3 linked regions of the Homo sapiens genome follow. Each later gene encodes a partner of the first gene's protein in a complex. Each region holds a gene or a part of one and is shown in the gene's direction. Other genes may lie near its edges. The genes, in order: VIPR1, VIP and ADCYAP1.

Evidence for each region.
Region 2: the proteins of VIPR1 (region 1) and VIP are in contact, whole or in part, in a cryo-EM structure (PDB 8E3Z), measured with the Homo sapiens proteins. Residues at the interface, in NP_004615.2 of Homo sapiens: Glu36, Cys37, Val40, Ile43, Asn69, Phe90, Leu92, Phe93, Tyr118, Ile120, Asp125, Asp126, Asp132, Gln135 (codon at 2,117), Thr136 (codon at 2,120), Tyr139 (codon at 2,129), Val142 (codon at 2,138), Lys143 (codon at 2,141), Tyr146 (codon at 2,150), Tyr150 (codon at 2,162), Arg188 (codon at 2,770), Lys195 (codon at 2,791), Phe200 (codon at 2,806), Ser202 (codon at 2,812), Glu204 (codon at 2,818), Ser205 (codon at 2,821), Gln207 (codon at 2,827), Cys208 (codon at 2,830), Met219 (codon at 5,518), Phe222 (codon at 5,527); in NP_003372.1 of Homo sapiens: His125 (codon at 3,660), Ser126 (codon at 3,663), Asp127 (codon at 3,666), Ala128 (codon at 3,669), Val129 (codon at 3,672), Phe130 (codon at 3,675), Thr131 (codon at 3,678), Asp132 (codon at 3,681), Asn133 (codon at 3,684), Tyr134 (codon at 3,687), Thr135 (codon at 3,690), Arg136 (codon at 3,693), Leu137 (codon at 3,696), Arg138 (codon at 3,699), Lys139 (codon at 3,702), Gln140 (codon at 3,705), Met141 (codon at 3,708), Ala142 (codon at 3,711), Val143 (codon at 3,714), Lys144 (codon at 3,717), Lys145 (codon at 3,720), Tyr146 (codon at 3,723), Leu147 (codon at 3,726), Asn148 (codon at 3,729), Ile150 (codon at 3,735), Leu151 (codon at 3,738), Asn152 (codon at 3,741).
Region 3: the proteins of VIPR1 (region 1) and ADCYAP1 are in contact, whole or in part, in a cryo-EM structure (PDB 8E3Y), measured with the Homo sapiens proteins. Residues at the interface, in NP_004615.2 of Homo sapiens: Glu36, Val40, Ile43, Asn69, Leu70, Ile89, Phe90, Phe93, Ile120, Gly123, Leu124, Lys127, Asp132, Gln135 (codon at 2,117), Thr136 (codon at 2,120), Tyr139 (codon at 2,129), Val142 (codon at 2,138), Lys143 (codon at 2,141), Tyr146 (codon at 2,150), Tyr150 (codon at 2,162), Arg188 (codon at 2,770), Val192 (codon at 2,782), Lys195 (codon at 2,791), Phe200 (codon at 2,806), Glu204 (codon at 2,818), Ser205 (codon at 2,821), Cys208 (codon at 2,830), Phe222 (codon at 5,527), Gln223 (codon at 5,530), Val226 (codon at 5,539); in NP_001093203.1 of Homo sapiens: His132, Ser133, Asp134, Gly135, Ile136, Phe137, Thr138, Asp139, Ser140, Tyr141, Ser142, Arg143, Tyr144, Arg145, Lys146, Gln147, Met148, Ala149, Val150, Lys151, Tyr153, Leu154, Ala155, Val157, Leu158.

What each region holds. Positions count from the first base shown.
Region 1 is NC_000003.12:42,525,280-42,535,287, forward strand, and holds part of VIPR1 (vasoactive intestinal polypeptide receptor 1 isoform 1 precursor), read left to right. Parts: intron 1-607; coding exon 608-714; intron 715-2,113; coding exon 2,114-2,217; intron 2,218-2,692; exon of another isoform or gene 2,693-2,711; coding exon 2,712-2,844; intron 2,845-5,499; coding exon 5,500-5,653; exon of another isoform or gene 5,654-5,679; intron 5,680-6,191; coding exon 6,192-6,252; intron 6,253-6,523; coding exon 6,524-6,590; intron 6,591-6,741; exon of another isoform or gene 6,742-6,816; intron 6,817-6,962; coding exon 6,963-7,054; intron 7,055-7,284; exon of another isoform or gene 7,285-7,300; coding exon of another isoform or gene 7,301-7,346; exon of another isoform or gene 7,347-7,463; intron 7,464-9,695; coding exon 9,696-9,825; intron 9,826-10,008. UniProt on the Homo sapiens protein: G protein-coupled receptor activated by the neuropeptides vasoactive intestinal peptide (VIP) and pituitary adenylate cyclase-activating polypeptide (ADCYAP1/PACAP).
Region 2 is NC_000006.12:152,752,512-152,761,983, forward strand, and holds the end of VIP (VIP peptides isoform 1 preproprotein), read left to right. Parts: intron 1-1,654; coding exon 1,655-1,777; intron 1,778-2,364; exon of another isoform or gene 2,365-2,757; coding exon 2,758-2,862; exon of another isoform or gene 2,863-3,622; coding exon 3,623-3,754; exon of another isoform or gene 3,755-4,584; coding exon 4,585-4,630; 3' UTR 4,631-4,673; exon of another isoform or gene 4,674-6,279; intron 6,280-6,398; 3' UTR 6,399-7,249; downstream 7,250-9,472. UniProt on the Homo sapiens protein: PHM-27 and PHV-42 are two bioactive forms from proteolysis of the same precursor protein, that cause vasodilation. PHM-27 is a potent agonist of the calcitonin receptor CALCR, with similar efficacy as calcitonin.
Region 3 is NC_000018.10:899,157-909,857, forward strand, and holds the start of ADCYAP1 (pituitary adenylate cyclase-activating polypeptide preproprotein), read left to right. Parts: upstream 1-5,904; intron 5,905-5,925; exon of another isoform or gene 5,926-6,229; coding exon of another isoform or gene 6,230-6,230; coding exon 6,231-6,340; exon of another isoform or gene 6,341-7,496; intron 7,497-8,502; coding exon 8,503-8,634; intron 8,635-9,108; coding exon 9,109-9,207; intron 9,208-9,388; coding exon of another isoform or gene 9,389-9,434; exon of another isoform or gene 9,435-10,276; intron 10,277-10,289; coding exon 10,290-10,479; 3' UTR 10,480-10,701. UniProt on the Homo sapiens protein: PACAP is a neuropeptide involved in diverse array of physiological processes through activating the PACAP subfamily of class B1 G protein-coupled receptors: VIP receptor 1 (VIPR1), VIP receptor 2 (VIPR2), and PACAP type I receptor (ADCYAP1R1).

The sequences.
Region 1 (10,008 bases):
CAGCCTCTGCTTGTTTCAGCCCCAAGCTCCTGCCATGCTGTGCTGCCTGATTCCCCCTCACATGCCTTTGCCTGCACAGGTTCCCCAACCCCACCCCTCCTCACCCCCACACTCCTGCTCCCCCTCCAGCAGCACATCTAAGCCCTTCCAGGTGTGAGAAGAAACCCAGCCCCACAGGCCCAGGCAGGCTGACTGAGGAGGACCGGGCAGGCCTGGGCCCCTTCCCCCAGCCGTGGCCTTGTGACAAGGGTCAGCATTCTGCTCACGGCAAGGGTCAGGAATCATTCTGTGACAAGGATCCAGGCAGGGTCTGTGACAAGGATAAGAGTGTATGTTGTACTTGGGGTCAGGTTCAGACCATAACAAAAGGGCTGAGCCCAAGAATGTCTGCTCTGATTCTATCATCGGTGCGGGAGCCCTGAAGAGGCTTCTCCCTGCCCCAGGTGCCCCCACGGTGCCCTGGGTAACTGGGTCAGGGCAGCTGGAACCTGACAGCACCAGGGTTGGTGGGAGTAGGGCTGAATTCTCTGCCTTGTTCCAAGCAGAGACAGCCAGGTCCCCATGCTCCCGGCCTCAGCCTTTGTCCTTGCCCCTGCCCTCCACCCAGGCCGCAATGTAAGCCGCAGCTGCACCGACGAAGGCTGGACGCACCTGGAGCCTGGCCCGTACCCCATTGCCTGTGGTTTGGATGACAAGGCAGCGAGTTTGGATGAGGTGGGTCTCAGGGCACCCCCACCTCACCTGCAGAGCGCCGGGGCCCACCTAGGAGACTTTGATCTCTCCCACCGAGGGGTGTGGTTGCTGTCTGTGTGGGAACAGGACTCCTGGAGTCTGCCCTCCTCTAGCCTCCTCCAGGCCTGCCTTTCTGGGGTCCCAACCCTTGGCTCCCCCTGACAGGGTATGGGAGGAGGCTTTCCCACAGGAGGGGCCCCCAGAGCAGCAAAAGCTGAAGCAGCTCCCCCAGGCTGGGCCACCCTACTGCCTCATGGGAACCTCACTTCAGCCCGGGAGTTGGCAGGGCAGGCAGACACCAGCACCCCATCCCATCCAGAGGGGAAACCGAGTTGCTGCAGGTCCTGGAAGGAACCAGACTTGGCTACCAAATAGCCAGTCAGGAACAGGGACAGAGCCTGTCATTCTCAGTCCCAGGACAGATATCTTCCCCGGAGCAGTTAAAACATGGTCTCTGTAAAGACTGGGGAGCCTGGTAAGGACATTGATGGGGAGGCTGGAGTCCTCAGCTAGGAGCCCCTCACTGCTTTGGGGTGCAAATGCATGTGTGTGTGTCTGTCTGCGATGGCATCTGCCCCACCCTCAGGCGCCCTTCTCAGACCGGGCTTTCACTCCACCCACCCCCGAGGACAGCAATTTCTTCAGAGGCCTTTGAAGCCCACTGGAGCTATAGGCCCTCATTCCCCCTTAACCACTTGCCTCTCCTCAGGCAAGCGTGGGAGGCTGACAGGAAGGAGTGGCTTGCCTAGTGGCTGTCGTGCTGCACTGCACCTGTGTCCATGGGGAGGGCATCAGGAGAGGGGACCAAGCGAGACACCCTCGGGGCCTAGCTTTGCCCTCCTCCACCGGAAAGGCCAGACTGCCCTCATCCCACCGACCCCAACTCCCAAGGGCCCAAAATGGGACATACTAGTGCCAGTGTCTTCTTCGACATCCCGCAACCTCGCATACCTCTCCTCCCTATACAGAGACAGGGCCTCGAGGGGTGTCTGAAGGGCAAGCAGACCCCACCCCTAGGGTGCCCAGCTCAGAGCTGGCACAGAAGGGAAGCCGGGCACATGGCTGGAGACATGAAATTAACAAAAGGGACGTGCAAGGTCTTCATTCTCTCCCTCACCAACTTGTCCCTCGTAAAGAAGCAAAGACAGGAAGTACATTCAACCCCCACCCCACCCTAAGACACAGTCCTGCCCTGTCTGTAGAAACCAGGGCGTTAGGGGTCAGGGGCTCAGCTGCTCTTGGGAGCCCCAGACCTCAGCCTCCTCATTTGCTGAGGCAGGGTTGGGCAGGCAGAGTGTGTAGGGCACCCCACCCCTGCCAATACCCCCTAGATGAGCCTCCCACCCCACCACCCAAGAGCCTCTCCCTGTCCCTCCAACAGCAGCAGACCATGTTCTACGGTTCTGTGAAGACCGGCTACACCATTGGCTACGGCCTGTCCCTCGCCACCCTTCTGGTCGCCACAGCTATCCTGAGCCTGTTCAGGTGAGGCCCAGCCCAAGTCACAGGCCTCAAAGCAAACCTGGCAAGTGTCCCTCCCACAGTGGAGCCCAGCGTGGCCCAGGCGTGCCCCGACCCCTCCACTGTTGCCCCCCAGCAGCACATACTCCCCAGCTCCTGCCAGGCCAGCTTCCCCTGGAGAAGGCAGGTGGCTGAGCTCTTCCATGTGTTGCAGCCTAGTCTCCCCTAGGATGGCCCTGCACCTGGGGACAGGGCACCAGAGAGTGGGGCCTGCACACAGGAATGAGGCTTCTGGGGCCACACACGAGGTTGAGGCCCTTGGGAGCCCAGTTGCACAGGTGGATGGGGTACCTGGGGGTGGGGCTCGTATTTCAGGATGGGATCCCCTTTGAGGCGGGGCCTGCCCTCTGGAGGACACATGCTCCCCTGCCCCACCCTTGCTCAGCACATAGGACAGCATTGGCTGGGGTGGGGATCCAAGGCCCCTTTGGCCTCCCAGATCTGCCCACCCCACACAGGAAGCTCCACTGCACGCGGAACTACATCCACATGCACCTCTTCATATCCTTCATCCTGAGGGCTGCCGCTGTCTTCATCAAAGACTTGGCCCTCTTCGACAGCGGGGAGTCGGACCAGTGCTCCGAGGGCTCGGTGAGGATCCTGGCCCTGGCCCACCTCCCTCAGTCTCGCCGTTATCTTTAACCACTGTAATCTCCTCTTCTCCCCCTGCTTCTCCCTCTCCCTCCTCCCTCTTCCCTCCCACCCCACCCCTCAATCCAAGGATAGCCTAACCCCCACCCAACCCCACCTGGCAGTACTCAAATCACACTCCCCTCCGGCAACAGGAGATGTTGCTCACCCATCTGGGTGCTCACAGACCTGCCGCCGCCAGTGAGAAAAGCAGATGGGAAATGGGACACTTCATGGCCACAGCCCAGAGCACCTGTCCCACCTGTTGCTAACTTCCTATGTGGCCTTGGGGAACTTACAGCCTCAGTTTCCCCATCTGTGCAAGGAATTCCAAGATTCCTTCCAACTCTGCCATCTGCCACCTGCATAGCCAGGGCTCTGCTCACCATGCCACTTTTCCTACTCCCCCCGTCCCCGTGCCATCTGGAGTGGGTCCATACATATGCAGTCCTCCTCTTTTGTTCTGATCCTGACAGCAGGCTGGTTCTGGGCCTTCCTAGGGAAGAGAGGTAAAGGGATCATCTAAGGAATTCATTGCCAGTCACTAAGGGGGCCATCTCCAAGGGATTCTTAGGGACCCTCTCTGAGTGCCCCAAGCTTTGACAGAGAGCTTGAGATCAGCCCCAGCCCCCACTCATTCCTTGTGGTCAGTAACTCATTGCTTCATGCATGACCCCAGAGGCAGTGCATTATATCAGGGGTCAGCAGTACCTTCTCCCCAAAGAGTGAAATGATCATACTGGAATCTCAGGCATTTCAACAAGGGGGAGAGAAAACCTAGGGGACCCACTTTGGCCATTCCCAGAGCTTCTCAGAGGTTCTGTCCCAGGAGCTGTGAGGCCAAGTCAGACATGAGCATTGTGAGCCACAGGACCTGTGGAGGAACCTGCTGCCTCCTGTGCACATGTTACGGATAATTATGGAGACTGGCTTCCCAATTCATTACTGCGAAGCTTTTCTAAGACTAGGAAGAAGCACAGATAACTGTCCTGGTAAAGAGCTGAGTTATGGCCAGACGCGGATTATGGCTCACGCCTGTAATCCCAGCACTTCTGGAGGCTGAGTTGGGCGGATCATGAGGTCAGGAGTTCAAGACCAGCCTGACCAACATGGTGAAACCCAGTCTCTACTAAAAATACAAAAATAAAAAAAATTAGCTGAGTGTGGTGGTCAGCACCTGTAATCCCAGCTACTCAGAAGGCTGAGGCAGAATAATCGTTTGAACCAAGGAGGCAGAGGTTGCAATGAGCCGAGATCATGCCATTGCACTCCAGCCTAGGTGACAGAGCAAGACTCCATCTCAAAAAAAAAAAAAAAAAAAAGAGTTATTCTCCAAAAGCAAATGGGAGGAAGATGGGGAGGCAAGAACTCCTGTAACTGGAGGGACTGAAGCGAGACCTGAGGAAGGACTTTCCAACCAAAGGGAGTGGTGGGGGCAGGGGGAGGCTTCTCTCTGAGGATGTCGCAAACCAAGGGTACAGGAAGGAAGGGTGGGAACCAATGTTTTGGGTACAGGGGGAAGTGGAAGCCAGACAGTTTCCTGGTGGAGGGTGGCTTTAAGCCCTGGCTGACAGACATCTAGGCTTGATCTGAAATGGGGGACTTTCTGGGAGGGGACAGAAGGCCCAGAATACCTTCCAGTCATGCCAAGTGGGCCACCCAGAGCCCTGTGATTGCTCTACTCATGGGTCTCCCTAACTCCTTCATGGTCCTCGTCTGCCTAAGAAACCCATTCTTCCACTCGGTCCTCTGAACCCCAGGAGGAATGGCCACCCCTCCCCTCTTCTCTTCTTCTTCATTTCTACTTCCCCCTCTTCCACCCTCTTCTCAGTCCCAGTCTCCCTCCACACTTCCATCTGGGCCCCACTCCACAGTCCACAGCCCTCCACTCCCCCACATTGAGCAGACTCTTGAAACTCAAGCAAGAATTCTCCCTCATACCTTCCAGCTACCTTCAATACAAATTGGCATTAGATGAATGAGTGGGTGGGGTGGGAGTGTGGATGGGCAGGTTGGTGGATGGCTAAGTAGGCAGCAGGATAAATGGGTTAAGTAAGGAAGATTGGACAGATGATAGGCAGAGGGGCAGGTAGGTAGATATGTGGGTGGATGCACAAGTGGATTGATGGGTGGGTGCAGAGATGAATGGATGGGTAGATGACTGAGTGGGTTGGTAGAAGAATGGAGAGATAGGTGTGTGGGTGGATGGATTGATAGATGGGAAGATGATAGATGATGGATGGACACATGGATAAAAAATGGATAAATGAGTGAGTTGATAGTGAATGTCTAGTGGGTGAGTGGGTAAATAAATGGATACATGGATAGGTGGGTAGATGATTGAATGGGCAGATGGGTAGATATATAGATGGGAAGGTGAATAGATGAATTGATGGATGGATAATTAAAATCACCAGTTTATCCCGAAGTATCAGAGGATCTAAAATTAGGGAAAATGGGAAAACCAATGAGTACATTTTTAAGGGGATAATGCAAAACAACAAAGAGATTAAGTTGGCTGCACTGCAACTGTGTTTGTCCCCCCAGACACGAGTGTGGGCAGTCAAGGACCCTTGACAGCCCCAGTGAACCCCGTCTTTTCTCCTCCCCCTGCAGGTGGGCTGTAAGGCAGCCATGGTCTTTTTCCAATATTGTGTCATGGCTAACTTCTTCTGGCTGCTGGTGGAGGGCCTCTACCTGTACACCCTGCTTGCCGTCTCCTTCTTCTCTGAGCGGAAGTACTTCTGGGGGTACATACTCATCGGCTGGGGTATGGTACCAGGGAGGGCTTCCAGGCTGGGGACAGAGGGGGCAAGGCCTGGAGAACTCCCTAGGGGGAGGGTGCCAACCCAGCTTGCAGTCCTACGTCTTGCTTAGCTGCAGGTCCTGCCTGCAAGGATATCAGCCAAGGGTCAAGAAAGTCCTCAAAATGTCTGATCCCAGGACAAGTCCCTCAGGTTGCAGCTGCACCTAGGGCTGACCTGTGGGACAGATTTTGTGAACATCTTTCCATTTCCCTTTAGTTCCCGAAATACACAGGGCCACTGCTAATCTATAAAGGGCCTCTGTCACAATTAGAAAGAGAATGTCCGTCTAGGTAGACACAGCCCTTCAGGCATACAGCTTCACCCCCTCAGTGGAGCATCCCTCCGTGGTGAACAACCTATGCAACCAAAGACAGCAGACTGACAACCCACCCTTTTCTCTCTCCCTCCCTCTCCCTGCTTTTCTCCAAAATCTCTCCCTCATGCCCTCTACCCCTGCTTCCTGTGCCCTCTCTGCTCTTTCACTCTCCCTGGGCCTGACAGGGGTACCCAGCACATTCACCATGGTGTGGACCATCGCCAGGATCCATTTTGAGGATTATGGGTGAGCTGCTGCCCCACACACTCCCCCGGCCGCCATCACTTGGGCAGGCCCCCTGGGTGGGATGATAATGCCATCTGGCCTTGGTGAGTGGACAAAAACCACAGCTCTCGGGCCAGAGGGGAGGCTGGAGGAGGACCTGGGGAGCAACAGACTCTGGGCCCGGGGTTGCTAAAGTGCTCAGGAGCAGAGCTGGGGACAACTGGGGGAGGTGCTGCTGAGTCTCTCTCTGGCTGAGGACAATCCCTCTCATTCCTCCCCACGGTCTGCTCAGGTGCTGGGACACCATCAACTCCTCACTGTGGTGGATCATAAAGGGCCCCATCCTCACCTCCATCTTGGTAAGATACCCTCCCACCACCTAGAGATGGGGAAACAGGCCCAAAGGGCAGGCAACTTAGCCCAAGGTCACATGGGAAATTAGTATCTAGGTCAGAACTGAAACGTAGCTTCCTAATGCCCAATGCAGGATCATCCCCACCCCTGTCCTACCAGTTCTTCCTTGAGCGTAAGCGGATTGGGAGCACAGTCCTTAGGGATTTGAAGGAGGTAGAGTTCCCGGATGACCTGCCCAAAGGGGAAATGCCAGAGGAGAGGTAAGATAGAGAGAGGGGCAGCAGGACCCTGGGAAAGAAGACAGGCCAGCAGTCAAGGGGCCTGAACACCTCAGCCTTCCCGCTCTGACTGCCCGAACTCGGGTCCCCACCCACTAGGTAAACTTCATCCTGTTTATTTGCATCATCCGAATCCTGCTTCAGAAACTGCGGCCCCCAGATATCAGGAAGAGTGACAGCAGTCCATACTCGTGAGTGTGGGCCTAGTGCCTCAGCCCCCAGTACCTCCATCCCCAGTCCTCAAATCATCCCACATCTCCTTGAAGTCCTCCCACCCCAAACATCCAGAGTCACCAAAGAGCCACATTGTTCTTTCCCACCTCCACCATGGCCTGGCTCAGCCCACCACCATCCCCTGCTCCAGCCCCACCCTCACCAGGCTGCACTCAGAGCCCTGCATGCTTCTCCTGCCCACACTCACCTAGCATCCTTCCCAGGTATGCATCTGCTGCCAAGCCAGGGAGCTCAAGAGGACACCGATGACCTGTGTCTTGTTCATACCATGTGCCCAGTCCCTGGCATGTGCCTCACATGGAAAAAGGGTGCAATAAACACATAGTAGATGAATGCCCTGGGGGAGACCCCAGTCCACCAATGAGACAGCCATGTTCGGGACTCAGTATTCCTCAGTAATAATGATGACACCTGCAGTTTACATGCCAGGCACACGCTAAGGGATTTCCATGCATCATGTCATTTCATCCACACAGTCCCCTGCAAAATTATCTTTACTTTACAGGGAGGAAATGACATACACTCCCTTCTCCTTGAGGGTTTTGGAGCAGGTCACCATGGGCAGGGAGAAGGGGGCACAATGTCCATGGACCAGGGCTTGGAAAGGTGTCAGGACTGTTCCCCCTGCTTGGGAGGACTGGAGGAAGAGGCAGGTTTTTTTGCGGGAGCAACAAGGCTTGAAGACAGAGCTAAAGAAACATGAAAAATATGAAAAGGGAGGCTGTGGGAAGGCAAGTAGGGTCTGCATGCTCACAGATGGGAGTAGGAGATTGAGTATCAGTGCTATTGACACAAGACAAACCTGGGACGTCCCACAAGGCCTTCCAGTCCTGGGATTCTTCTTGGCCTGGCTTCTCTTTGGAGAGTCTGTGCTGTGGTTCTAAGATTCCTGGCTAGAATGTCACAGACTGCTGGATTTAGGATTCTATTCTGGAATCCTGTGATTCTCCCTGATGAGACTAAGACTCACATTCCTGGTGTGACTGCATTCTCTCCTGCCAGGTGTGTAGGCGGAGCTTCCCTTCCTGTCTGAGAAGGAAAGGCTGGGGGGGACGGGGGGGGCATCTGCAGTCTGCTGAGGGGCAGCACATCGGGCCTGTGCACCCTTATCCTCTCCTTTGCCGATGGGACCTTATTTCCCCCAACTTACAATGGTTCAAAAGGGCCTGAATCTGAGGCAAACAGAGCTGGCCATGGTCAGGGCCAGGTCTGTGTGGTGAGACAGAAAGGAAACAGTTGTCAGCAGGCAAAAGGGGTGGGGGCAGTTGGAGATGAAGCTCCTCAAGGAGAAGCTGTCAGCTCCCACTCTACACCTCCCCATAAGCCTTTGATTTAAAGAAAGCCTCCATCTGTTAGCCTCCGGTGTGTGGGATAGTTTTGCAGCCGAAGAGGGGTGGGCATTGCTCAGGATCTTGGCATGGCTGAGAACCAGGTCCAGGAAGGAGTGGGAGGGGCAAGGCCAGCTCCTCTGCCCCCAGCTTGCTGTGGGACCTCAGGCCTTGGGCTAGACTTCCTTGGACTGACTGCTAAGGCAGGAGAGACAGAGTCAGAGACCCTCCCTATCCACACCCCACCTCTCCTAGCCAGGGAGCAATGGGTTCACACTGCCTGGATCAGCTATGAGGTCAGGTGGCTGGGAGGCCTGAACCAGGAAGAGCTCTGGGCCATGGGAGGCGGGTGAGCATTTAGAATGAATGCTGACCCTACTGAGCACACAAAGCTGTGAAGAAGGAGCTGGTCCTTCAGAGCACGCTGGGAGTATATGCACTGGTGTGGGGAGGTAGGAGGAGGGGGATGCAACCCCAGAGAAGGTGGCAACTTCTGGAGAAGCAGACACAGCAGAAAAAACACAGATAGAGGGCGATACTGATTAATTTTGGGTTGTCCCTGGTGATCAGGTATGAACTTGGGTCCCCATCACCCTCCCAAGTGGCCCTGGGCATATGTGGTCAGCACCCAGTTAGAAAGACTTGTTTCCTAGTACGTCTTCTCTCATGGTCTCTCATGGATGCACTATACTTCATAGTACCCAAAACACTTCCAAGTTCATAGTGGGCCTCTGTTTCTATAATTTGACTATGTCGAGCATACACTTACTGCATTATACAAATTGGAAAAACTGAGACCAGGAGAGGAGGAACCAGAATCTCTTGTTGCCTAAGAGATTTTCTACTGCTCTTGATGGCTGAGAGCATCCTCTACTGCAATGATGAGGTAAGCCTCTCCTAGACCAGGGGGCCCAGGCAACAGAACTCCCAATAGTGGATTTCAGCTAACATGTCCCTGTTAGCATCATTCTCACTGGCCTCTCCTTTACCTCTTACCCTCTCTCCTCCAGAAGGGTGAGAATAGAGGGGGTTTCTTTCTCTCTCATGCTTCCCTCCAGGCCAGGAGGGCTGGGGGCAGAAGGGCAGAGGCACTGCAGCTGTGGAACAGGAGCAGACAAGGGCATAATATTCAGAGGAACCTACAGTCCATCCTCATACTTCCTGGTCATTGTCCCCATCTTCTGTGCCTCCAGCTGCCCCCATGCCACACCCTATCATATCCACATGTGTGGACACACATACCCATGGCCTGTCCCTCCCCTGTCTCCAGAAGGCTAGCCAGGTCCACACTCCTGCTGATCCCCCTGTTTGGAGTACACTACATCATGTTCGCCTTCTTTCCGGACAATTTTAAGCCTGAAGTGAAGATGGTCTTTGAGCTCGTCGTGGGGTCTTTCCAGGTATGGGCTGTTGACTTAAGGCTGCATTCTTCCCTGGCTTTTAAGGGAATTCAACCTGGAGTCTTGGCCCTTGCCACTGGATTCCAACCTTTTTACTGTAATAAGTATTAGATAAGCACCTACTTTGTGCTTAGCTCTTTCCTTAACCAGGGGAACACAGGGGCTGGAGCCAGGGGTGGGGCA
Region 2 (9,472 bases), on another chromosome or scaffold:
TGGATCACATTCCCAAACATGGTGAAAGGAGGCTTTCACTTTCTTTTTATTCAAAACCATCTTTAGATAAATAATAAGCTTTTATCCATTGTTATCTCAAGTCAGTTCAATTTCTGGTGGAAAAAAGCTGTTTAGTTGCCAACCACATTTGAGTTTATTTTCAAGATTAATCAGTAAATAATCATAAGACTAGTAGTTGATTAGTGAAACATGTATAAAATCATGTTGCACAGAAATCTATCTAGGCAGAGTCAATTTGCCAATATTAAATATGGGGTAATTGATCTATTGAGATACACTCCCCCAATAGGAAAATTTTGATATACTTTGTTTGGACCATAAATCCTTAGTTTTATTGTTCTATATGTTATATTATATATTCCAAATCCATAAAGTATAACACAACTCTTATTTAAAACTTTATTAATGTATGCTAAAGAAGTAAACAATAAATGAAAACTATATTAGCTTGAATTTTCCTTTCAGTTTACGGGCACCACTGTATCTCCAAAGGAAAAATAATAATTGGGTTGGTTTCCTTCTTTGCTTATTAGGTCATTCTTGATTTTTTGCTTAAGGTAGACTTATGCTCAACAGAGAGAATAACCTCTTAGCTATTAGTGTTCTCTGTGAAATCTGTTTAAATACAGCTCCTGCGTTGCTTTGATAACTAAACAAAATGGTTCTATCTGAATAGTTCTACCACAGCAGATGAACAATCACAAGAATGTGGACATTTGTGTTGATTGCTAAGCTTCAGACCCACAGAGGACTAGTTGCTAGTGACTCCCAACTCCCAAATCACTGAAAGATACACAAGTGTCCAGGAGCTGACACGCTCCTTGGATGTTTGCCCTAACAGTGAAAATCTGCACACACAAAATTATAAGAGTTGCCGGTGATTGAAATATGCATGCATCCATAAATATAGTCATATTCCATATATGCATTTGACTATTCTTAGTCTTTCAGTGTAACATTGTACATCCCTTATTAAAGTTGTGTTAATACATAAGATTAGAAAAAAGAAGGCCCCATAAAACTTATTGAATTCAAATTCATCTTCATAGATGAGCTATCCATCTATGGAGACATTCTTTGAACTCTGTCAATACAGAGAAATATATAATGCCAAAGTAAATATTTGAAGCAAAGCTTGGGGGTCGAGAGAGAGAGAAGCAGTTAATACTCTGTTCTTCAGAGATGTTTGGAACAGGTAATACTGAACATCACCAAATCCATAAATTGTTATCAGTTCTCATTCAATATTAGTTTTTTGCAAGTTTCTATTTTGCATAAAATATTTCTACATACGAAATTTGACTTTGCAAAGTGAAGATATTCTTGGCATAGTAAATTACACCAAAGAAGTATAGTTTGCTTAATGCTCTGATAAGATTGAATTAAGTAGCTCTTGTGTTTTGTATATTCAGCTTATAAAAGTCATATGGCATCTACTTTATAGGATAATAGGAATTTCCTATTTATACTCTCATTAACTATATGAGCCATTAAGTCAAATTATGCTATTCTCATATTATGACTGGGTAATACTTCCCAAGAGTCTAAGTATCTTATTTTAAATGGTTGCGGAACCATACACACTGTCTTCTGAAAAAAGAATGTATTATTCTCGTGTAACTTTCCCCATCAGGTTGGGTGACAGAATACCCTTTGAGGGAGCAAATGAACCTGATCAAGTTTCATTAAAAGAAGACATTGACATGTTGCAAAATGCATTAGCTGAAAATGACACACCCTATTATGATGTATCCAGGTGAGTTTATTTTTATAAAACTATCCAATGAGTTTTATTTTAGAAAATGTGTTTAAGAACTATAAACGTGCTTATTTTATCTCACCATGAAGCTATTCCGATAGCAAAACACTAGAGGTTTCTATGTGTCATGGCTTCATTCATCCTGATTTACTGCAGATCTTACAGCTGTACATAATTTTCATACTGAAAGGTTGTAACAAGCCAGGATGAACACACCATTCACTTCCATTCTGTTGCACATAATTCCAACATCACAGATTGTACCAATTCTGATAAAAGTACAGCATTTAGCATTCCAATGATGGAAGAGTTGCCAAGGAGTTTTGTCTCTATATAAAGAAAAGATACCTGATAGAGCTGTTCATTCATAGAGCTGTTTGTCTAGAGCATCATTTCAAGTACAGACCAAGTAGCTCTATAGTACTTGGTACAGACAAAGTATAAAAGGTGCTTCATTTGAAAGAGAAAAGGTGGGATGATAGGCCTTAATGCCTTCTCTATCTTAAGAGATTTTGTTTCCAAATATTTTGGAAAAAGAAAAAAAAAGGTGTACTGGGGTTTATGAACTTTCCAAAATCAGAATATTTTCCCATTGTGAATGTCTTTATTCAGTGGGGCAGACACAAAGCACCATGTACAAATAGCAGCTAATTTAAATAGATCATATTTTTACACCAATATTTCTTAGAAAGAAATAGTTATAAAGATTCAACCATGGAGGAATATTGAAATGTGCTCCTAGAAATGCCTGTTTCTTTAATTTTTCAGTGTCTTGGGCTAGAAATATAGGGTATATCTTGATATAAGTGACTAGAAGATCTCTTTTGTTAGGGTGTTAAGAAATCTCCTTTTGAACTTTAGTTTTAATGAGAAGCTTTCATAATAAGCCCATAATTTTTTTGTTATTTAATAAGCCATAATAATATTCTAGAAAGCCATTTACAAAATAATAGCTATTTTTTTCTTCCTTGTTTTAGAAATGCCAGGCATGCTGATGGAGTTTTCACCAGTGACTTCAGTAAACTCTTGGGTCAACTTTCTGCCAAAAAGTACCTTGAGTCTCTTATGGGAAAACGTGTTAGGTAAAGAGAATTTATTATTTTTATAAAATATGTTATCATTATTCAATCTGAATATTGTATTTTCACTCTTAACAAGTTATTTACTTTGTTTGAAATTGAAAACTCGTTGATAATGTTTAATTTAGTTAAATGAAATAACTTGTATTCTTCAATAACATCTATCAAGCCCATGGACTAAGACTTTTTCATAATATCATATTCATTGACTCCAGACACACATTTTTCTCAAGTAGCAATCATTTAGCAATCTGCAATCAAATTGAACAAGACTCAGTAAAACAATCAAAAAGAGATAGTACAGACTGAGGTAAATTTTAAGGTCAAACAGAATATTCTTTTTACTTCCTGCTCAAATTAAATGGAGAATTCCAAATGGCCAACAGTCAAATATTTAGATGACGTTGCTCAGGGTAGCATAGCTTCTAAAGAAGTAATTATGTTTTTTTTAAAAAAAAAAAAAATTTCTCCCAATGGCAGAGCACAACTTCAGCTATTCCCAAATTTTTATTTTTGGATGAATTATTTGCTCAGCTGTACAGAATGTGTCATAAAACAGTCCCAGGCCATGCCAAAATATGGCAGATGATTCCTTGCTTTCCTTCATCCTTAGGTTTAGTTGTATTTTTCTTTTAGTCTTTTTATGATAGAAAATTAGTTGGGTGGGAATTGCTTTTTATGTGGCTCCAAGAAACCTGGAACATGTGTGTATTTATCATTTCTTGTGAAAACTCTTTGATTTCCTTTTCCTCATGTTCCTTAGCAGTAACATCTCAGAAGACCCTGTACCAGTCAAACGTCACTCAGATGCAGTCTTCACTGACAACTATACCCGCCTTAGAAAACAAATGGCTGTAAAGAAATATTTGAACTCAATTCTGAATGGAAAGAGGAGGTAAAGAAAAAGAGAACTTGCTAAAATGAGGAATCATGACTGACTTTCAAAATAGAAGCTGCACATGGAGACCTCTCTATCTCACTTATCTAGCTATACTACGTGAAGCAGTGATTTTCAACCTTGGCTGACATTAGACTACCCCGCAGAACTTTAAAAATACAGATGTCTGGGCCTTCTCCCAAACCAATTGCCAGGAAATCGGTGTCTTCGGTGGTGTGGCCCTAGACATACATTTCTTTTAAGAGTTCCCCAGTTGACTTTACTATGCTGCCAGTGTTAAAAATGATGACTATACAGACATCTAGTCTGAATCTAAGAGCAAGTTTCATCAAAAGTGATGATTTTTAAAACATGTAAAGCATAGTCAATTGCAATTTGGTAACACATGGAACTCACTTCGTGTGCATATTCACTACTGTTATTTAATCAAATTAAACCATTAGGTATTTTGTATATTTAGATTCTGTAAAATCTATATCTCTCTATGGTGTGTAAATATTGGACACAATACATAAACAGTGTAGTGTTCTGTCTTTTTATTCCAATTGTTTTTGTTTAAGTGATGAGTATTAAGGATAATTCTGTTTGGGTGTGATCAGACAAGATGACCTCTTTGCCCACTAGATGATAATTCTGTGAGAATAATTTTAGAAACTCTAAGATTGATGAATAATTCATAGGTACTAACAAACCTCAAAGATAATTGTTTAGCCTCCCCATACACTTTCAGAGCACAGAGAACAGCACATTCATTATGTCATAATAGTTTCTTTAGACCCTTTCTCATCTGAGAGCCTTAATATGTACAATGTTTTTCTGGTCTGCAGCAGTGAGGGAGAATCTCCCGACTTTCCAGAAGAGTTAGAAAAATGATGAAAAAGACCTTTGGAGCAAAGCTGATGACAACTTCCCAGTGGTGGGTATATTCGTGCATTCCTTCTGTATTCTTATGGCTGTCTCTGATTATATAAGTAGCTAAGAGTCACTTAGTAAGAAACATCTTAGGGTTAAATAGTTTCTCATCATGAGACCTCATCCAAGACAGACACTTCTACAACAGTGGACCCCAACCCAGTAAACAGCTTAGAATGATTCATGAAATTTTTTTGATCTTGTAAAAGAGAGCACTCACAATAAGCAAACGTTTTGAGATCTGAATAGTGTTCCTGGCTTACTTGGGGTTATTTCTACCTTTGTATCAAGATAAAAAAACAGAGGAGGCTGACTCACACTGACAAGAAAAATGGGCTTTCCTTTTGAGGATCGACCCATGCTGCTTTTATTAATTGAAGGTTTAGTCTCACAATTGACTGTTAGCTCCTCAATTAAGTATAGGGAAATAGCACCAAATTAGAGCATGGCCCATTACTATGAAAATATCAAGGCATTCTGGGTCTAACTATATTCCTTGAAACATGGCAAACTTCATAGAGCAAAAGTTAAATTTAGCTTGTTTTACCTGTAAGTTTGTTTTACCTATATGACTCTAATAGCATTCTCTGCCAACATTTTTTTTGAGCAGAAAAAACATGGATAGACTTTTTTTCTTTGTGAAGTAATAAGCTTGCTATCAAAATTGATTTTATATAAATGTGGGTTCAAGACATATTTCTTTCCTGAGTTACATTACATTAATATTCACATTCGCTCATAAAAAATCTATAATACTGGGCAAGTGCTTAAAGAAATTTCATGCTGTCACCATATCAAAGGTTAGCAGATTTTAAAGGGCTATGGAGTAAAATATGTTTGGCTTTGTGAGCCATCTATTTTCTGTTAGAGTGACTTAACTCTGCTATGGTAGCACAAAAGCAGCCACAGTTAGATGTAAAACGAATAGGAGTGACTGTGTTCCAATAAAACTTTATTCATAAAACCTGAAGGTGAGCCAGATTCCAATCCCTAACTAGGTTAAGGAGATTAAATTCACCCATGCTCAAACTAAAGGCAATTCATGGCCTTACCTCAGTTCCTGATGGGGTTATCTAAGGTTTTCAACAGTCATCAAGAGTGGACATGGTGTCTGGGAAGATACCTGCTTAATTGACTGCTTTTGTCCACTAATTACCCTTAGACCTCTAAGAGAAAGCAGAGGCAGGAGTGTGGCCCACATCAACTCTTTATCTTTTATAGACATCTCAGAGAAACAAGTCCCTTTGCTCAAAGAAGAAAGTTAATTACATATAGCTTTTCTAAGAGTGTTTATAAGAAGGCTTCTCCATCAAATTAAGAAACACGGTAGGCACTAAAATATAAAGGAGAATTGATTAATCACACTGTGCTTTGTAAATGGTAAGATCACTTATGAGATTCCATCCTCCATTCTTTTCTTTTTTAAATGGGTGGCTTTGGACAAATTCTTTGAAGAGGAAATCATGTGGGTCATCCATTAGTGAAAATTACAAGTGAATCATTAATAATGGTTAGTTAGACGTCTTTTCACATTCCAGTTCCTCTCTGATAATCAGTCCTCTAGAAGCTGCTCTCTTGGTATGTCCCAGGACATGATCCCCTGCCACAGGCTGTTAACAAGGGACAAAGAGAAATAAGTGTTTATCAGATAAGTAAATCAGTGAATGAAACTAAGATGCTAGAAATAAAATATATTTTATGCCTAAAGCAACAATTTTTTCTTTTTCAGAATTCTTGAAGGAAAATGATACGCAACATAATTAAATTTTGAGTTCTACATAAGTAATTCAAGAAAACAACTTCAATATCCAAACCAAATAAAAATATTGTGTTGTGAATGTTGTGATGTATTCTAGCTAATGTAATAACTGTGAAGTTTACATTGTAAATAGTATTTGAGAGTTCTAAATTTTGTCTTTAACTCATAAAAAGCCTGCAATTTCATATGCTGTATATCCTTTCTAACAAAAAAATATATTTAATGATAAGTAAATGCTAGGTTAATTCCAATTATATGAGACGTTTTTGGAAGAGTAGTAATAGAGCAAAATTGATGTGTTTATTTATAGAGTGTACTTAACTATTCAGGAGAGTAGAACAGATAATCAGTGTGTCTAAATTTGAATGTTAAGCAGATGGAATGCTGTGTTAAATAAACCTCAAAATGTCTAAGATAGTAACAATGAAGATAAAAAGACATTCTTCCAAAAAGATTTTCAGAAAATATTATGTGTTTCCATATTTTATAGGCAACCTTTATTTTTAATGGTGTTTTAAAAAATCTCAAATTTGGATTGCTAATCACCAAAGGCTCTCTCCTGATAGTCTTTCAGTTAAGGAGAACGACCCCTGCTTCTGACACTGAAACTTCCCTTTCTGCTTGTGTTAAGTATGTGTAAAATGTGAAGTGAATGAAACACTCAGTTGTTCAATAATAAATATTTTTGCCATAATGACTCAGAATATTGCTTTGGTCATATGAGCTTCCTTCTGTGAAAGTACATTTGGAGACACAACTATTTTTCCAAAATAATTTTAAGAAATCAAAGAGAGAAAATAAAGACCTTGCTTATGATTGCAGATAATTTTTTTGTTTGATTATTTTATATGATTCAGCAGTAACTCATTTTAGCTCTAAAGTTCTAGGCACTAGATAGCTTTTGTGGTATTTGATTGTGTGCAAGTTCTAAAATAATGATGGCTTAAAATAAAAGAGAAATTTCTTTCTCACGTAAGTCAAGAAGTAAGATGTCAGGGTTATTATAATGGTTCTGCTCAGCAAAACCCTCAATAACTTACACCCCTTCCAGCTCATCCCTCATCTCCAATGGTGTGGCACTTTTCCTCATGATCCAAAATTAGAGCTAGCATTCCAGCCATCACATATGCATTCCAGGCAGCAGGCTATAGGAAGAAAAAAGGGAGCAAATATTATATGCCAGTTCTCTTTGAACTGATATCTTATACTAACATCCCCTTTACTAGTACATAGTCTTATGGCCACAGTCATTTGCAAGAGAGGCTGGGAAATGTAGTATGTTTTCTTTTCTTTTTCTGGGTGATCATGTACCCAACTTAAAACTAAGACTCTATTAATATAAAACAAGGAAAGAATAAATGTATGCAGCGATTAAAAATAATTCCAGGCTTGGATCTTAAATTCTCACCCAAAAAGCTTAAAGAAATAATAAAGAGAGCGAGAGTCAGACCCTAACCATTAATGAAGAAGCATTATCCCCATAAGGCAAAGTTTTGCTTGGTTTCATTTTCTACAATTAGGACAAATGGCCACATCAGGAGGAACTAGTCTAGAAGTACCAGTAATTGCAAAGTAGTTTTCACAAGTTGAAGTAAATTGAGCTTCTTGTATCTCTTTTTCTTATCTGATTCTTCAAATTATTAAATATTTATTAAGTGACATTTTTATGAGAAGCACTGCAGTGAAAACAGACAATTTCTAAGTGTTAAGTGTACATAAAAAGCTTGTAAAGATGAAATGGAGCCATAATTTGAGTGTGTAACTAAAGAGTTTTAATTTTATTTTATTAATATGAATCTTTTCAATTTATTCCCTATTGCTTCAAGAAATTCATTGAAGAAATATTCACTGAATGACTATGATGTGCTATGTAGCTATCTGAGAGATTGTTCTGGGCTGAGGGAACAGCAAGTGCAAATGAGGGAACAGTCCTGACATATCTGGAGAGCAAGGAAGCCCATGTGGCTGGAGCAGAGTATGCTGGACAGGGACTCAGTAGGAGAGGAGGTCAAAGAAGTTACTAAGGACTGGACCTTGTAGGGCCTCACAGGCCACTGTAATTGTTTGTGAAGTGAGATGAGGTATGGCAGAGTTTTGGACAGAGGTGTGATATTATCTGAACTGCACTTTAACAGGATCTTTCTGGATACTCTAATGAGAGAAGAGTGAAGGAGTGCTAAGGGTGGAAGCAGGGGTACAAACTAGGGGGCAAGTGCTATAAATCAAGTGGCAGATGATGGTGCCACCAAGGCAGAAGCACTGGAGGTATTGAGAAGTATATCTGAATAGATCTTGAAAGAAGAGTCAGGTTTTCTGAGAATGGGTTGAAGACAAGAAATAGGAGAGGCTGGGCATGGTGGGTCATGCCTGTAATCCTAGTACTTTGGGAGGCTGAGGCAGGAGGATTGCTTGAGGCCAGGAGTTCAAGAAGGAGGAAAGTCAAGAATGACATCCAAGGTAAATCACCTGAGGCAACTTGAAGGATGGGATTGCTATAGACAGAGAAGACTGGGAGGAACGAGGGTTCAGGGAAAGGTGAGCTTAGTTTGGATGCACTAAGGCAGATGTTGAGTAGGGAGTTGGAGATGTCATGAAGAGGAGATGCTGAGCTGCAGATGGGCAAGTGGGAGATTTCGCATATAGACGGGATTTAGAAACACAAGACTGGACGAGATCAGCAAGAGACCAAGTGTTGCTAAACAACAAAACACAACAAAAACAGAAACCTCAACACATAATCCTTGAGTGTTTTTATTTCCTAGTGCCACCATAAGAAGGCACCGCAGACCAGGTGTCTCAAACAAAGAAATCAATTGTCTCACAGTTCTGGAGACAAAAAACGCTAGAGCAAGGTGTCAACAGGGCAGGCTCCTTCTGAGAGCTGTGAGGAAGAATCTGATCCATGCCTCTCCTCTCGTTTCAGGTGGTTTGCAGGCAACCTTTGGCTGATAGAAGCATCACTTCTATCTCTGCCATGACCTTCAGGTAGCATGTCTCCAAATATTCACTTTACATAAGGACATCAGTCATTTTGGATTAGGGCC
Region 3 (10,701 bases), on another chromosome or scaffold:
AAGCCTTATGTCAGCAGAGGATTTAGACTAAGTAGAGAGAAGACTTTCTTCTCCTTGGCTTTTTAGAGGAGGTGCTCTGGAATTTGGAAGATGCTACACAGTGAAGTCTGGGATATACATTTTTGGTACCCAGTAAACTCATGTTCAGAGAATAAGGCCTTAGTAGAGCCATATATGTGAGATATTTGGAATCATCCAAACCTGTAGCAAAGGTTAGATCCTGGTTTTTGTTTCTCAGATGTCTGCTTTATATCTCAAAACAACAAGCAAAATTTCTTGGCTCTGTGAATATGCAATTCTGTTCTTAGATTAGAGAGAAGCTTTACTCATGTGGTTTGGAAGGCTTCCTTTCCTAGTTGTTTTCAGTGTGTGAGAAGCACTACATTTTGAAGGTCAGAGAAGTCATGACACATTATAGGTAAGCTCATCAGCTTCTTACTTCACAGTGAGTTCTGAAAGGCATGATGCATGCAGTCCAGTAAGTGATGGTCATGATGTTCTGGTTCAGAACATTTGGGTTTCCCTACAGGTGTAATCGGTATGAAGTGAGTCATTAGTCATTGCATTTTCTGGAAAAGTCGGTAGAGAAAAGTTTAAGTGAAATGTAATACAGTGTTATAATTCACTTTTGTCACTCACAGGAGAGGATGATGTTTTGCATCAGGCTTGTTTACTGAAAAAGCTTATTATAGCCTGGTTCTTATGCTAAGTACTGGCTAAAAAAGAATAGAATGTGCCAGGCACGGTGGCTCACGCCTGTAATCCCATTACTTTGAAAGGCTGAGGCAGGTGGATCACAAGGTCAGGAGTTCGAGACCAGCCTGGCGAACACGGTGAAACTCTGTCTGTACTAAAAATACAAAAATTAGCAGGGTGTGGTGGTGGGTGCCTGTAGTCCCAGCTGCTTGGGAGGCTGAGACAGGAGAATCACTTGAACCTGGGAGGCGGAGGTGGCAGTGAGCCGAGATTGTGCCACTGCACTCCAGCCTGGGGGACAGAGCGAGACTTCATCTCAAAAAAAAAAAAAAAAAAGAATGCACAACTTTTCCAATCTTGATTTAGATTATTTATACTAGGAATGTGTGAGGATGCCTTGAACAAACATGTCCTTTTATATGGTTAAGAAAATCAAATGTTGTAGGATATAGAGATAGTGGTAGTAAAAGGTAATGGTGTAGAGATATGTACCTAAGGAAAGAGAATGTCATGGAGAAACCCTGGGTACTATGGGTGACTGAGCCAAAAAGAAAGTAGTGGAAATCTTATCTAAGTGACCAGAAGCCGCACTTCACTGGGCTGCTTAAAGGCAAAAATACTTTTAGCTCACCACTGATTTGCAATATGGGGATGGAGGGGAGCAGTGTTTAAAAGATGCTGAAGATTCCCATGCAAGAGAGGGAAAGCCAATTTCCCAAGTGGTGATGGTCCAAAGGCAGGAACCTGGCACAGACACAACAGTACAAACACTATAGTATTTGCTAATGTTGTGAAGCCATCTGCAATTCAAACTCCCAGTATATATACTAGACATATTCCTCCTGTTTGAATACAAAAACCCACTTCCTCAAAGGCTAGAGTTCTTTAAATTGAATGTTAATTCAAGGTTCAAGGATTGACCCTTCAACAAAGGCGGATGTGTTAGCCACCAGGAAAAACAATTCGGGGAAGGGTTAGTTTGACTTTTAGCTATTATTTATCATTTCTTACCCAAACTTGTTTTCACATCTGAAGGACCAACAGGATAAAAGTTGATACATTAGGGACTTGAAGTTCAGAGTATTATTAAATCATTTCCAACAAATATATATAAACAGCGTCTTCCGGGCAGGTCAGGGCTTAGCTCAAGTCACTTTCAGTTGCTGTGCCTCAGGGAGGATGCTGGTTAGACCTCCCACTGAAAGATTTCCATTGTTCTTCTAACTTTTCTAGCCAAACATGATTCCAGTTAATGTAACAATCTCACAGCCTGGAAAGAAACTGCCAGCCTGGGAAATCTACTTTTCTGGCCTGGGAAGTATTCTGGTGAGCACTGAGGGAAGGGAGTAGGGGTGTTGGAAAGAAGACTTGAAATTCCTTTGTGTTATCTGTAAATAGAACGTTCTAACTCTTTGGTCTCTTCTTCCTCCTCTCCCCCAACCCCCTCTTTCATCATTTTCAATTATATATAGGAGGTTGGAAAGTTTCTCTTGAGCTCTTAACCCCAGTCACCTAAATACCCTTTGTGAGGGAAACTGGGTAAGAACAATTAAAGTGGAAGGCTCTCCTACCCTGGTCTTGCTCTTCCCCAATTCTCCTCTAGCTCCTCCTCCCTTTATCTCTCTCTCTTCTCATAAAAGTGCTTTAGTTGAGGCTTCCTAGGATTCACCCTCCAGCTCCTATCTGCACTTGAAGCCAGGCTGGGGTCTGCACTTGCAATTAGTATGTCTGTTGGACTGGGCCACGGTATCCCACCTGGCCACTGCCGCATGCCTCCTCAGTGCATGCCGGGGCTCCTGGTCTCTCTAGCCTGGGGCTTTGGGCTGACAAGTTCCCTCTTCCTTGCAGCTCCCTCAAAGTCCCAGACACAAAGGCCTCCAGGATGCTCTGTTAATGCTTGACTGGAGCCTTCCAAGATTAGAATCAAAGGGGCATTTGGGGGTAGTTTTGGTCTTTGAGACTTCAGTCATCCCATATTCCCTCTACCCAATAGAAAGCAGAAGGGGCCTATACTCTCATCTAGCAGCTTCTAGTTCCTCCTATCTATTGGCCTTTTCCCTTGGCCCAGGGCCAAGGCCAGATTTTCATGAATAGGAAAGCTCTCCTGCAGAGAGATGTCAAACATGCCCAGCTAGACAATGGCCATGAGCAACAAAAGATCTGTGGGTGATCCTGTAGGAGTTTGATTCCCCCAGGCTGCTGTGGGCAGGGCTGTGTGGGTCTTTAGATTGTGTTGAGCAATTGGTGGGTCTAGGAAGCTTGATTTTCTGGAGTTCAGTGACCAAGAATCTCAAGTTCTCTGTTTAGTCTTTCACTCTCGTGAATGGGTTCAGGTCTGAAGGCCTGTAATTTTTGGGTGCTGAGCCCCGAGTTCTGAGCTGAGAGTATCTAAGCTGAGAAGAGCACGGGGTCGCAGCCTTGGTAAGTCAGAGGCACAGTTCAGCCTCTGTTGGCCCTTGGAGCCAGCAGTTAGTCGTCCTCCCCAGATAGTTAATCGTGTTTGTGGTTTTCCCCCTTTAATGGGCCGTGAAGTCAGCAAACTCCCCACATGGTGGCTCCCTTTACTAAAGTTGAGTAGTGAATTGTACAAGGAGTCTTGGAAATTTTCAAATATTTCTCCAGATTGAACTCAACTCAGAATTCGTGTGGGAGGAAAGAGTAAGGATTTTAATGGGGTTCACCTTTGACGTGAAGCAAGGCGGAAGACAGGAAAGCCACAGTGGGGAATAGCTTTGGGCGCTTTAGTAAGAAAGACATCTCTGCTTGATTATCTGGTAGTGTTCACCGCAGGCTCTTTGTGTGCGAGCTTGCTGCAGAGGCAGAGCTGAACATGGAAAACACGCATGTAAACAGTCCAACATAAATCAGTGAGCATATGTATCAGAGAAAAAGAGACATATTCCCATGTAGATGTGGTTTGAAGCTTTATTGAAGGCAGACAATCTGAAGCACGGCCAGGAATAAACTAAGAGGAAGCAGACAGTTTTCGGTCATTCATGGCCAGGAATAAACAAAACTTAGTTTTTTTTTTTAAGAAGGAGGAAGTATTAAATCTCAAATAAGAGCAGGAACAGCATTTAGAAGGAGAAATATAATATCTTGGAAAAAGCATGCAGAACTAATATAGCTTATTTAAATGTGAGATCCAAATCGTAGTAACAGGAAACCCTCCCACTAAACTGGAATTTCCCCTAATTTTTGTGTAAGATCCAAATAATTAAAATGCACTCTAATGGTTATTGATGGCTCTATTTTCTTTCTTTCTTTCTTCTTCTTCTTTTTTTTTTTTTTAAAGAAATAGACCTGAGTTCTCTTACTGGAGTAGAAATATATGAACCTTCTTCAATTACCCAGGAAATTGGAAGCCTCTGGGTGGATATGGTCTTCCCTTATTGCTTTCCTCTTCCCACATCATTTTCAGTTAAAAAAATTAACTGTTTCCAGCAGAGGGATTCCTGTTAGAAACCTTCATCAGGTGAACTTGTACTGGGAACCCTCATGCTTTCCCAGTCTGTCTGTGTCTCCCAAACAGAGCTGAAGTTGTAAACAAAGTGGAAAAACATATTTCTCGCCCCCAAATTCTTAAAATTTCACTTCTTGTGGAAAACACAATTTCACAACATCAATTTTTAAAATCTGTAAGAGCCACAGAAGGTGTGAAAGTAGCCAAACAGCCGGTCTAGAAATCCAAAAGCCAGGACTAACGGGGGACAGAATGCTTTTTCCTCAAATCCAGGCAGGGATGGGGAGCATTCTCAGCATTAGGGCATTTATGGACGCTACAAGAGGGAAAGGATGTATCTGAACGGTGGGGGTGATTTAGGCGATGAATCGCCACGTTAATAGCACTACTGCCAAATCTTCAAATTTAGAGGCTCTGGTGAAAAATTAAACCGGTGGCAATTTTCAACGTTTGTAGCATCTGTTACCCTACACTTCAGCACCCGGAGTCTGGACAGCTCCGCAGGCCGCGCTCCGGAGGCAGCATGAGCTCTCATCAATCTACTCATAGCCCTACTGTCAACGGCAGCCAGACTCAGGAGAGATTTACTGAAAATCCTCCAAGACTTCCCTTTAAAAACAAAACGACTTCCACATTTAATGGTCTATCTGAAAGAACATACGCAAGAAATTAGGAGATCTAAATTAAATTTATTAATAGGAGAGCTTGATGATGCTTAATTCCAGAGACCAGAGCTCTGATTGGTGAGGCTTGATGAAAAAGTAAAGAGAAATCGTAATTATATAGTTAAAAACATAACTTTTGTCATCCTCAAAATTCTAAAAATTCTTTACCTGTCCTTGAGAAACGGGTGAAATTGAAAACCATCAAAACAATTGGACTTCTTAAAAATTGGATTGTATGAGTGAAAGGTGTTTATGAGAAGTCGATGACTCCGGATCTTATCATCCAAGAGGACAGCACAGAATAGTTAATATGTTCCTTGAGGGACTAGGATGCTGACGTCTTTTTCTGATACCCGATCATTACGTGACTGAGAAAAAAAAAAAGGAAGTCATTTCATGAATAAAAATCGGAGCGCAACAGTGCAACAAAATATTCTGTACTTAAAGGCAACAGGCAGGCAGATGTTGACAAAGAGGGCTCTCCAAAAACCATGTTCGGATAGATTTTTGCGAACTGCACAGATAAATAGGAGCAGAAGGCCGGTCACCTCTGTAACCAGCGGTAGCAGCAGCAGAAGCCGCAGCTTCAGAGGCAGCCGGAGAGACCTCGGAGCAGAGAAGGCGCCGCCGACCCTCGCGGCTGCCTGGCCCGCGGCTCCTACAAAGGCGGGCTAGCCGCCCGCCCTCTCCCTTGCCTTCCTCCCCTTCTTTTCTGACTTTCCCTCTTTCCCTTAATCGCCTGCTTCTTCCTCCGGGTGGACTTACGGCCACCTTGCTCCTCCGCGCTTCACCTCATCGCCCCCTCTTTCTTTCTTCTGCCTCTCTCTCTGCGCCCCCTTCTCTCCGTGTCACGCTCCCTCCTGGTTCTGCGCGTCTACAAACTTTTGAGCAGAACACGAGCCTCGGCAAACGAGTCCCGCAGCTCCTCCTGCTGCTCCCGCTGGTTCCTGCGGCTTCTGCTCAGACACCAACGCCAGACGGCGATGCCTCTCGGGTGGTGACTCCAGCGCAGGAACTTGAAGAAGCGCTTTGCCCGCCGTCCTACCTGGCAGCTCTCCTGGCAGCGGGAGGAGTTGAAGGGTAAGGGAGGGAAAATCTTACCAAAGCGACCGGCTCACTCGACTGCTGATTCTTTCGCTTGGCATCGCGTCAGGGGAGTTAGCTTTCCTTCAGCCGGGTCTGGCTAGTTATTGGGCGCCGGGTAGATGCATATATATATATTTTTTTCTAACTATAGCAAGCAAGAAGTGGCAGGGCGCGCACCGGCTGTCGCCAAGTGCTGTTCAACTCAGGGAGCCGGGGCTTCGCTCCGTCCCTCCCCCGGCTTCCAGAGCTTTTTGGGGTTGGAGGGTGGGAGGCCAGGGGCGTTCTCACAGCTGTGTGTCCTCTTTCCCATCCTGCGCAGAATGACCATGTGTAGCGGAGCGAGGCTGGCCCTGCTGGTCTATGGGATAATCATGCACAGCAGCGTCTACAGCTCACCTGCCGCCGCCGGACTCCGGTTCCCCGGGATCAGGTAGGTGCTGGCTGCCTGGCCCAAGCAGGAGCTGGGGCTTCCCAGGCACAGACGCTTCCTCACGGTCTCCTTCCTGCAGTCCTTTGGGTCCAGACTACTAGCATCGCCCTCTGCGCCCCCGGTGCGCCTCCGCCAGCCTCGGCTGGACAGCGGGTCCCCATTCTAGCCGAGGGTCTGGCAGGCTCCGCGACTGCTCGGACGCCTCCCCCAGCCCTAGGCAGCTCAGGGTCCCGGGTAGAGCCAGTGAGCTTCTGGCCGCTGGAGAACCCCCCCTCCCCCAACCCGGCCCACAGGATGGGGGCAGGGCACGGCCCCTAGCTTGGTTTCTTTTACCTATTCTTGGGACGAGTTAGGAGAACTTCAGCTCTGGAGCCTGGCCGGGGGTTGAGCGTGAAGCTCCCTCGGACTTTGCTTTGTTACTGCTTGTTCTGGACTATCCGGGTGGGGTCTCTCTCTCTCCTCCACCCTTTCTTTTCATTTCATTCCAATTCTTTCCCCTGAAGAGCTTTCTTTCAAGTGATCCGTGTTCCAACTGCATTTTGAATCCCAGGCTGTCTTGGGGGGCGTGCGGTGGGGAGGGTGTTGGCCCGGTGTGATTGAGGAAAAGCGACTTAAGAGAGGGAAGAACAAGGACGAGACTGCGAAGGAGGGGGAAAAACAGGCGCAAAGGAGGAGGAAGGGAAAGCCAGCAGGCAGGCAGGACCGGGAGAGCAGCCCTGCCTGGCCCGGGATGGAGGAACCTTGGCTTTTTTCTTAACCCCGGGTTTCTAACCGGCAGGCGCGGCCCAGGTTCCCGGAGGCAGCCCCAGAGTCGCGGACCGATGTGCCAGGCTGTGGATGAGCCCTGGGTAGGGGAGGGTTCGTACCAGCGGCGCCTGGGGCAGCGAGGAGCGCGCGTTCTGCCTGCGAAGCTGCCTTCTCCGAGCCCCGCCCAGGAACATTAGCTCTGGGGGGCCGCTGATCATTGATTTGGACGGAGAGATGGGTTCTGGGTTCTGTATTAGGATTCCAGCATCTGGGCTCGAGGCAGGGCAATATCCAGAAAGACCCCAGGGTTCGGGGTACCCGGGCCAGGGCTGAGGCGCATCGCCGAGCAAAGGCTGGGTGCGAGGCGTGCGGAATGATGCGCTTGCCTTGCCCGGGCCTCTCCAAGGATGGAGAAAAGGCGAGTGAAGCAGCGAAGTACGACTCCAACCCCGCCCAGAGAGTGCTACTAGCGCTGGCTGCACGCCAAGTCTCTCCAGGGGTCCAAAGCGAGAGGGATTTGTTTTAACCCATCTCTACCCGTCCTGTGTCAAGAACGGAGGCTGTAGAGGGCGACTGCGAAGTCGCCAGGCACTCGCTGGATCTCGGTCCCCCTCCTCGTGCTCTGGGGTTGAGATGGGGCACCGCCATCGATAACAGATCAGCGCGAACTATTCGTTTAGTGGCCTTAAAACACCCTGGTTTCACCCTCAGCTATTTTCAAGTTCCCGTGTGCCTGGCACTTTCTCCGTGCGAGAAGCACCGGAGGGTGCGGACGCGCCACAGTCTGAGCCGCCGCCGAACTGGCTAAGTTTAGGGGCATTTATTATTCATGTTCCTGCCAGATCCTCGCCTGCCCAAAATAGAAACCGAGGTTCTCCGTGACCTACATCTGCTCGGAGAAGGGCTCCCCTGGGCTCGGAGGCTGGGGTGGGGGTGGCTGAGGAGTTGGCCCCCGCACGCCCCACGCATCCTCTCCTTTGCTTTCTGGGCCTCCCCATTCGGGTCTTCGCGTGGGTCAGCGCCCGGTCTCCCAGGGCCTTTCTCGTCCCCGCCCGTTGCTGCTTTGGGGAGGCTCGGGAGCCAGGCGGGGAGGGGGGCGGTCCTTTTCCGTAGACAGGTGTGCGCGATCGGCGGAGACGCCTCGGTTTCCCAGCGCTTGTTGAGGCCGTGGCCCGCAGGACGACCCTTTACCCGCGAAGGGGGGGTGGGCGGGCCGCCCGGCGGGGTAGGAGTGGTTGGGTGTCGTTGCCTCCTCCTTACCTCTGCTCCCACCCCCAGTCCTGGGAGAAGAGACAATTCTCAGCGGAGGACTTTTATCACCTGTGAAAATCCGCGCGAGCCCCTTACTTTGGATCCTCGCCGAGCTGGGGAGGAACTTGCACTGACCACACCTTCTGTCCCCGGCCACCCCGCAGGCCAGAGGAAGAGGCGTACGGCGAGGACGGAAACCCGCTGCCAGACTTCGATGGCTCGGAGCCGCCGGGCGCAGGGAGCCCCGCCTCCGCGCCGCGCGCCGCCGCCGCCTGGTACCGCCCGGCCGGGAGAAGGTGAGATTCGCGCGGCCTCGCGCACACCCGCGGCTGGGAGCTCGGGACTGCGGTGACGGGAGGGGCAGTGTGGTGACCCACCCAGGATTTTTTTTTTTTTCCCGTGAAAGTCCTCAAGCCTGTCCTCTCCCTGGCCCGATCCTATTGCAGCGACAGAAAATCAGCAGCGGGCGGGTCTGTGTGGACCTGAGGGCCGCGTGGGGACCGAGGGGGGCTGTGGCCCAAAGAGTGGCAGTGAGTGGCGTCAAGGAACCCACACTCCGCATCTGCCACTCCTAGAGCCGGGACTAGCTCCCGATCCTAGCAGTTGCTCTCGAGATCATCCCGGGAGTTATTGGCGAGTTCTGGGCCTCTGGAGGTTTCCCTGTCAGCCTCCCCGGCCGCCGAGGGGGCGCGCGCCCAACAAGGGGGTCTCTAGCGGCCACCTGGGGACAGAAACAGTGACCCTGGGCGCGCACTTTGCCTCCCCGTTAGAGATGTCGCCCACGGGATCCTTAACGAGGCCTACCGCAAAGTGCTGGACCAGCTGTCCGCCGGGAAGCACCTGCAGTCGCTCGTGGCCCGGGGCGTGGGGTAAGAGTTTGTGGAAGGATTAACCTGCGCGCGCCGGGGTGGGTGCCTGTGCGGGGCGCGCGGGGCGGGCGGCGGTGGGTGCCCGTGGGGGCCAGGGTGAGTCTGCGCCCCTGGGTCTGGGGTGGGCATCCGCCACGGGTCGCAGTTGGAGATTTTGAAGTGGCACTTTAAATTTGCCCAGAGAGCTCTGGAAGAGGCAAAAAGGGAACGCGAGCCAGGGAGTTTGATCCGTTTTGAATGAAAAGAAAGAGAAACCAAACCAAACCTCTCAGTCATCCAAAACCTTCAGGCTTCCAGGGAGGTTTTGCTATAATTTTCTCTAAGCATGACTGTTTCTGGGGGAGGGGAAAGGGGTGGTTGTATTTACTGAAAATTCAAATCGAAATAATAAATGGCCAAATGTGGACACTTATGGACCCAAACAGTTTTGCTCACGCCAGAGAAACTGAGAGCACAGGGCTTGTGTGAAGCCTATCTCGGCAGAAGGCAACATTCTAATAAAGCCCGTGGGAAAACAGATTACATTTTCGCCATGAATAAGTCATGCAGTGAAAAATATTGCCTACAGCCTGTCGACTTATATTATTATCACGTTTTTCAACTCGGCGTGAGGAGGGAGAGGAGTGTTCATATTTGACTAGGAATTGCAGGATCGATGCAAACTCCAGGGCAGCAGCCAGACTGGCATATGTAGGGCTCTCCGGTTACTTTCTCTGTATGTCGCGGGTGAGAGGAACAGCGAGGACAATTTAGCGCAAACACACGAAGGGTCGGATCTCAAGGGGGCAGCGCTGGGAGAAAGGTTAGGCTTGAAGCGCGCGTCGCCTGCCCGGATCTTATCCCGGGCCCCCTCCGCAGGGTTTGGTGCCAGGAGATCCTGCGTGGGGAGGGGGGCATCGAGGGGCTGCCGTCTCGGCCCTCCCCACGGCTGCTTCCAGGCAGAGGCGGGCGACGCGGTGGGCAGTGCGAGCCCCGGGCCCTCCCCGAAGGCTCCCGCGTGGGGTGGGGCCCGCCTGCTCCCCGCGGCGATTGAACCTGTGTCTCCCGCCCCGCCACCCTCTTCCCGACCCCTTTGCTTGCAGTGGGAGCCTCGGCGGCGGCGCGGGGGACGACGCGGAGCCGCTCTCCAAGCGCCACTCGGACGGGATCTTCACGGACAGCTACAGCCGCTACCGGAAACAAATGGCTGTCAAGAAATACTTGGCGGCCGTCCTAGGGAAGAGGTATAAACAAAGGGTTAAAAACAAAGGACGCCGAATAGCTTATTTGTAGCGATGGGTTACCAGCTACCCTGTGTATACAGCCCTGACGCAATGAAAAGTCGTTTTCCAAACTGACTCAACAGTCATCGCTCGTGTGTTCTATCCAAACATGTATTTATGTAATGAAGTAAAGCCATTAAATGAATATTTTGATAATAATATTGTTTTTCTTTCTACAAAGCACTAGAGAATGCACAGATATACTTTGTGGACCAATTATTGATATATATTA